Homo sapiens: one gene and its partner. The protein of the gene in region 1 purifies or fractionates together with the protein of each later gene. This does not show direct contact. Each region holds a gene or a part of one and is shown on either strand. Other genes may lie near its edges.

Region 1 (3,825 bases):
CAATCTAGGCAGATTTATATAACATCACTATAAATTTGGAAATAAAAAATAAACACACAAACAACTGTGAAAAAGAAAGGAATGAGGAAAGAGTTCTGTATCTTTTAATAAACTTAATAATTCTTTATAGAATCAAGATCTCAGGATACTATATGTGCAATCCTAGTAAACTCTTCAACATGGAAAACTAATACATTAAATATAAACACATTTATATTGAAGTATTACAATAAATATATTCACACAAGACACTGAAAGACTGACAAAAGAGGATAAATTCCAAGATTAGATTCTACTTCCTAGAATAAAAGACCCCAATTACAATTTTGAATAAAACAAACAAGATGCTGTAAATTTACTCTGTTAAAAAAGATTGTTTCATTTTAATGTTTTCTAATTTGACAAACACTTATGAGTGGATTTCAAGTTCTGTCTCTAAATGGACAAAACTAGAATCTCATTGTTTTAATAATATCAATTCTATGAAAAATAAAATCTGGACCTCATAAGCAGATACACTCACTCTTACAAACACACACATACCCTAATATTGCCCAAGCTCCCATTCTATACTAAAAAAGGCTTAAACAATAGTAAATCACATGGTCCCCTCCTTCTGTTTCAACTTTATACTTTTCCGCTAACAGCTTTACAATATGGTAATAGACATTTTTAATCACTAAGTAGTCTACAAATTTTAAGTTCATACTCATAACAAAGGAAACAGAGTATGAAACTTTCCTACAGAATTAGGCAAATTTTCCTCTACTTACATACTAAACTTTGATATTGCTGTTTATATTGATTCCAATATTGTTATATTATTATTAAATAAAAATAGAAATGAAAATGTACCACAGTAAAAATCTGAGGTAACTATTTTGATTTATCCTTTCTTCCTTCTCTACTGTATTCTCTCTTTTTATTCCATTTTCTTCTACTCTTATAGCAAATAAGCCACAAGAAAAACCTCAGAGAACAAAAATTTAGTTTGAACATCGCCATGGAATCACCAAGTCCTTACCAGATAAGATTTGCTCCAACTTACCCACGTTTGATGTTATGTAATTCCTTGTCCTTCCCTTTATCCTTCTCCTTTTCTCTTTTCTCTTTATCTCTGCCCTTACGTCGTTCTCTATCCCGAGACCGACTACGCGTTCTTCTGTGACTGGACCTTTCACTGCTACGACTATGAGAACGGAGACGAGGTCTTGACCTGGACCTACAGTAAGCAGATTTTGTTAAATAAACTTAGTGTATAATTTGTATCGTGAAAAGTAAATACTCTTTTAAATTATCTGAAAAAAACTACTTAGTTTTAGTTGTGGACTCAGAAATAAATAACCACGTGAAGCAAGCACCTGAATATGATTCTTTATAAGTAAATGCTCTCACTTAATATGAGGGAAATATATATGCTAACTTTATAGGAAATTATGATGCAGTTAAAAAGTGTTTGCCTTAAAGGTTCAAATCTAGTCTTAATTATTCACATCTCCTCAAATAATGTATCTAATTTAATCTACAAGAATAAGGCTTTCCTTTTCTCTACAATCTTTGCTTCCATTATCTATTCAACCTTATTTCTTATTTCTAATTGTTCCAATATAAATACTGATCCACTCCAATCCAGCTATTCTTTGTATTAAATGCATTACAGTAAAATACTAAGAAGTAATTATTTCAGGTTCTGGTTACAATATTGATAAAACATATATATATATATATATAATCTACCAGACTGACAACCCTACAGATAATTTTTAAAAACAACTCAGGTTGACCCTTGAACAACATGGGTTTCAACCGCATGGATCCACTTACATGTGGATTTTCTTCCATCTCTGCCACCACTGAGACAGCAAGGCAAACCCCACCTCTGCCTCTTCCTTCTGAGCCTATTCAACATGAAGATGAGGATGACAACCTTTATGATGACCCACTTCCACTTAGTGAATATTAAATATATTTTATATTCATGCTGGGTGCAGCAGCTGACGCCTGTAATCCCAGCACTTTGGGAGGCCAAGGCGGGCAGATCACTTGAGGTCAGGGGTCCGAGACCAGCCTGGCCAACATGGTGAAACTCCATCTCTACTAAAAATATAAAAATTAGCTGGGCGTGGTGGCACATGCCTGTAATCCCAGCTACTCAAGAAGCTGAAACAGGAGAATCACTTGAACCTCGGAGGTGGAGGTTGCAGTGAGCCCAGATTGCACCACTGCACTCCAGCCTGGGTGACAGAGAAAGACTCCATCTCAAAACAAACAAAACAGAATTGTTGCCATTTTAATCCAACCATGTGATTTCCCTCCTAAACAAAAAAATAAACAAAGGTACATTTTTCGAGGAAAATAACAGAGTATTCATAATATGATATTCACTTTGTCCAGGATAAAAACTCAAAATTCCTAGATATATGAAGAAACACAAAAAATGTGTTCTATTCTTAAAAGAAAAGACAGCATATGAAGAGCAACCCTGAGACTAAACTAGATGTTAAAATTAGCAGATAAGGATTTTAAAGCATTAAGTGTAACTAGGCTTATAATGAAGATAAAGTTAAGCAATCTCAATAGAAATACCAGAATACGAAAAAAAATTCTGTAATTGAAAAACACAATCTCTGAAATTAAAATTATGCTGGATGAGATTAAAAGCACACTGGTAATAACAGAGGAAAGAATCTGTATACATGCAAATAAATCAATCAAAATTACCCAATATGAAGAATTAAGAGGAAAAAAGACTGTAATAAGAAAGCCCCTCAGGGATCTGTGTGACAAGATTCAAATGCCTAACATGTTTATTTAAACCCAGAAATAGAGAAAACAGAGGATGAAGCAGAAAACATTTTTTCAGTGGTGAGTGAAAATTTTCCAAATTTAATAAAAGACAAATTTACAGATTCTATATTAGAAGTTCAACAAACCAAGTAAGATAAATATTAAGAAGACCATGATTAGAAATACTACAGTCAAATTGATAAAAACTAAAGGTAAAGAGAAATCTTGAAAGTATTCAGAGGAAAAAACAACACATTACATACAGGGGAACAATGATACAAATTATTGCTACTGACCTCTTATCAAAAATAATGGAAATCAGAAGACAGTGGAATGAAATTCTTAACATGGTGAAAGAAAACAAAAGGTCAACCTAGAATTTTATACCCAGCAAAAACATCCCTCAAAAATGAAAGTAAAATAAGGACATTTTTGAGACAAAGGAAAAGTAAACAAATATCAACAGAAGACTTGCATTACAATAAATACTAAAGAAAGTTCTTCAGGCTGAAAAGGAATGACAACAGATGAAAGCATGGCTCTTTAGGAGGAAATGAAGACTAATAGAAAGTAAATAAATGGGTAAGTATCAAAAACTGCTTATTTCCCTTAATTTATTTAAAACACATATAAGTGCTCAAAGTAAAAATAATAGCATTTTACTCTAAGGTTTATACTGAAAGTAGACATAATACAAATAACCTCTATAGAATAAAGCATGGGGCAGGTAAATGAACCTATACTGTTAAAAGGTTCCTATATTTCACATTAAATGGTGAAATAATAACTTTAAGTACACTGAAATGTTAAGAGCATATACTGTAATCCTTAGAGCAACTACTAAAAAAAGAAGAAAATAAGTATAGCTAAAAAGTCAATAGATTGCTTTTAAAGGAATTATTAAAAATACTCATTAATCCAAAAGGAAGCTGGAAAGGAAGCAAAAAGAAAAAAGAAGGGAAAGACATAAAATAATCATAAAATGATAGACTTAAATCTAATTATATCAATAAGTACATTAGATATTAATAAACAAAA
Region 2 (3,825 bases), about 22 Mb from region 1:
TATTCAATATTATCAGTGCTTTTAATTAGATTATATATATCTTATATATGTAATATTAGTACAGATAACTTGGGGACCAATTTGGCAGTTTTTAATTAAAATTTTAGCTATATGATTATATGACTCAGCAATTCCACCTTTCAGAATCTATGCAATATAAACATTCACACATTTGCCCAAGTACCAGGATGTTCATTGCAGTAATGTTTAAAACACGGAAAAATTGGAAACAACCCAAGTGTTCAGCATCAGGGGAAAAGCCCTCCACTTTATTTTCTTCATAGCACTATTACTACTATCTGAAATTATATTAATTTATCTACTTGTTTATTATCTAGGAAATCAGCTCATCTAGGAAAAGGAAAGCAAAGAGACTGTATTTATATAATACTTGTTTGGCTAAAATTCTTAGAAATAATACCTTTTCTTCTAAAACAACAAATCAGAACAGACACCATTCCAGATTTTAATAACATGAACCCACCAGAGGGCCCACATAAAGGCCTGTAGGTTTGCAGACAAAGGCTGAGAAACACTGCCCCTGATGAAGTGTCTAAACTTGCTATCTAGATAGACTGTCACTAGATGTGGCCTGTTTGCCCTTTTAAGGCCTGGGGCATTTCTCAGTAGAATCAACACACTCTTCATTACACAGAACCCTCAATTGCCTTTAATACTTGGATCTCAATACTGCTGCCAGCACCCAGTGAGCCTCCACTCATTGAGGGCCCACCATGGGAAAGGGGTCTCAACCTTCTACTAGAAGAATACCAAGACTGCCAAGATGTATCATGTTGAGAGAAGACAAAATGCTAACAGCTGGGCCACAGTGCTTGATGGAAGACTTGGCATTGGTAGGAGCACATCAGTACTCACAACAGCAGTATTCTGGGGCCCAATCCCCAAGGCTGTAAAATAGGAAATATGCCTACGATCTACAAAATGGAAGGGATAAGTGGCCCTTGCTAGGATTCCTAAGCCCTTAATGACATTTCCATTCACAACCACTAATCTCTGCTTTTTATTTCTAATCTCACAGAGAAGCAGTTTTCAAGCTGCTTTTTCAACTGGAGGAACTCTGTTCAAATGAAAGTGTAAGATGAATAAACAAACAAGAGGAAGGGGATAGCCTTAGTGCTCAGTCTAGGGGGTTGGGGTGGGAGGATACCCCTCCCTTTTACCCCAAAGTGCTGAGAAGCAGAGTTTGAAAGGGAAGGGAGACAGAGAACGAGGGAGGAAGCTTTACTAGGAGAAACAAAGGTCCTGTGGAAGGAACATACCTGGCTTGTTGGAAGAAGAAAAAAGTCCCCTTTTTGACTGGGACAAAGCAAGCACAGGGAAGAGCAGTAACAGATGAGGTCAGAAAGACAAAGAGGAGTTCAGATTATGTAGGGGCCTTGTAGGAAAGTGTAAAGCCTCTGAGTGGATAACTTACTTTTAACAAGATTCCTCCGGCTGCTGAGTTGGGAATAGGCCGTCAGAGAAGGACATAAGCAAGGAAAAGACGTTACTGCAGTTATTTCCTTCCTAACTTGGAGATATACATTTGGTAGTCAGCATGTAGTTGTTGGTGTATAGATGGTATTTAAAGTCATGAGACTGACTGAAATGCCAAGGAAATAAGAGTCAATAAGGAAGAATGGAGTATTAATGAGCCATGTAATGCTCCAACTTTTAGGCGTCAGGAAGATCATGAGGAACTAGCAAAAAGACTAAACCTCCAATAAGGTGAGAGGGAAATGCAGAGAATGCAGCAAAGCTAAATGAAGGACGCGTTTCAAAGAAAGAGGAATAATCAACTGTGTAAAATGCTGCTGAAAGGTCAAGTAAGAGGAAGACTGAGAACTGATTCACTAGAGCTAGCAACATGAAGGTCAGTGGTGAGCTTGACAAGAGTGCTTCAGTGGGGGAAGGGGCCTGATTAATGTGGACTCAAGAGAGACTGGTGGAAAAGGAACTGGAGTCAGTGAGTTAGATAACTGTAGAAAACAAATTGAGAGGGGAATGCAAAGTCAAGAGAGTTTGGTCTTATATTAAAAGGCACTATATCTCCGGTATCTAGAACAGTGCCTGGCACATAGTGATAAATTAGTAAGTATTTGTTGACTGAACTAAGTGAGATCACTAGCCATTTAAACAGTCTTAGTTCTGGAAGTTTAAAAGCTGATAGAGTGAAACATGAGGATTCTTGGTCCAATAAGAAGAAACTGCCTTTTAATTTCCTACTATGCCTGAAAACTCTTTAGGGCCTTTAAACACCTAGAATAGACATTCCTCAATATGAGGAATAGCAACAGAATTCAACAAACACATGCCCTACAAGAAAATATACTTTCAATTCTGGATAGCTGCAATCTCTCCAACTACCTCTTGCATCTGGGGCCCTGTGACTTTGGACCTAGGGATACAACATGGATCACAGTCCTTTAGTTACGTCGTGATTCACTATGCACTAAGAGGGAAGATGTGTGGTGGTCCCTGAAGGACATCAATCTATGCGGCCTTGACCAAATGAAAGCTCTATGTGGCATGCCAATAATAATCATGAGTATTTGTTTAATGATATATACTTTTCAAAGTGGTAATACATATATCCTCTCCTATTTAATCTTACAACAACTTTGTGAGGCAAGTGTTTTTATCACTTTCATTTTACAAATAAGAGTCTCAGACTTGCATAAATCACACAGCTCTTTCAACAAATTATGCTGGGATAACTGGATATTCACATGCAAAAGAATGAAGTTGAATCCTTACCTCACATACAATAATTAACTCAAAATCCACCAAATAGCTAAATGTTAAGAACTAAAACTATATATTGCCAGAAGAAAACACAGGAGTAAACTGGCAGGACCTTGGATTTGGTGATAGATTGTCAGATATAATGCCAAAAGCATACACAATCAAAGAAAAAACAAATTCAACTTCACACGAATTAAAAACTTCTGTGCAAAGAACACTAACAAGAAAGTGAAAAAACAGCACACAGTAAGACAGGAAATATTTGCAAATCATAAACCTGATTTGTATCCATATTTACATATGTAAAGAACTCTTAAACTCAACAACCAAAAGACAATCCAATTAAAAAATTGATAAAAGACTTGAACAGACATTTCTCCAAAGATACACAAATGGCCAACACATGAAAAGATGCTCAACGTCAGTAGTCATTAGGGAAATACAAATAAAAATCACAATGAGGCACCACTTCACACCCACTAGGATGGCTATAACCAGAAAACAAAAGTGCTGGCGAGGAGGTGGAGAAACTAGAATTCTCAAAAATTGCTGGAAAAAATGTAAAAGTGTGCAGCATCTGTGGAAAACAGTCTGGGAGTTCCTCAAAAACTTTTTAAACATAGAATTATTTCATAATCCAGCAATTCTATTCCTAGATACATGCACAAAAGAATTGAAAACAGGTATTTAAACAAAAACTTGTAGAAGAATGCTCTTAGCAATACTATTTATAAGAGCCAAAAGGTGTAAACAATCTAAATGTCAACTGATAAACAAAACGTAGTATATCCATACAATGGAGTATTATTCAGCCAAAGAAAGAATGAAGTACTGATACATGCTACAACCTGAGTGAACCTCGTATACATTGTGCTGAATGAAAGAAGCCAGGCACAAAAGGTTACATATTGTATGATTCCATTTATATGAAATCTTCAGAACAGGCAAATCCATATAGACAGAAAGCAAATTGGCGGGTGCCAGACGGTAGGGGTAAAGGGGAATGGCGAGTGACTGCTTAATGGGTACAGGGTTTCCTTTTGGGGTGATGAAAATGTTCCAGAATTAGCGGTGATGGCT

Evidence for each region.
Region 2: the proteins of RSRC1 (region 1) and PPP2R3A purify together in Homo sapiens (co-immunoprecipitation; one large-scale study listed by IntAct). This does not show direct contact.

What each region holds. Positions count from the first base shown.
Region 1 is NC_000003.12:158,200,469-158,204,293, reverse strand, and holds part of RSRC1 (serine/Arginine-related protein 53), read right to left. Parts: intron 1,223-3,825; coding exon 1,049-1,222; intron 1-1,048. UniProt on the Homo sapiens protein: Has a role in alternative splicing and transcription regulation. Involved in both constitutive and alternative pre-mRNA splicing. May have a role in the recognition of the 3' splice site during the second step of splicing.
Region 2 is NC_000003.12:135,972,053-135,975,877, reverse strand, and holds part of PPP2R3A (serine/threonine-protein phosphatase 2A regulatory subunit B'' subunit alpha), read right to left. Parts: intron 1-3,825. UniProt on the Homo sapiens protein: The B regulatory subunit might modulate substrate selectivity and catalytic activity, and might also direct the localization of the catalytic enzyme to a particular subcellular compartment.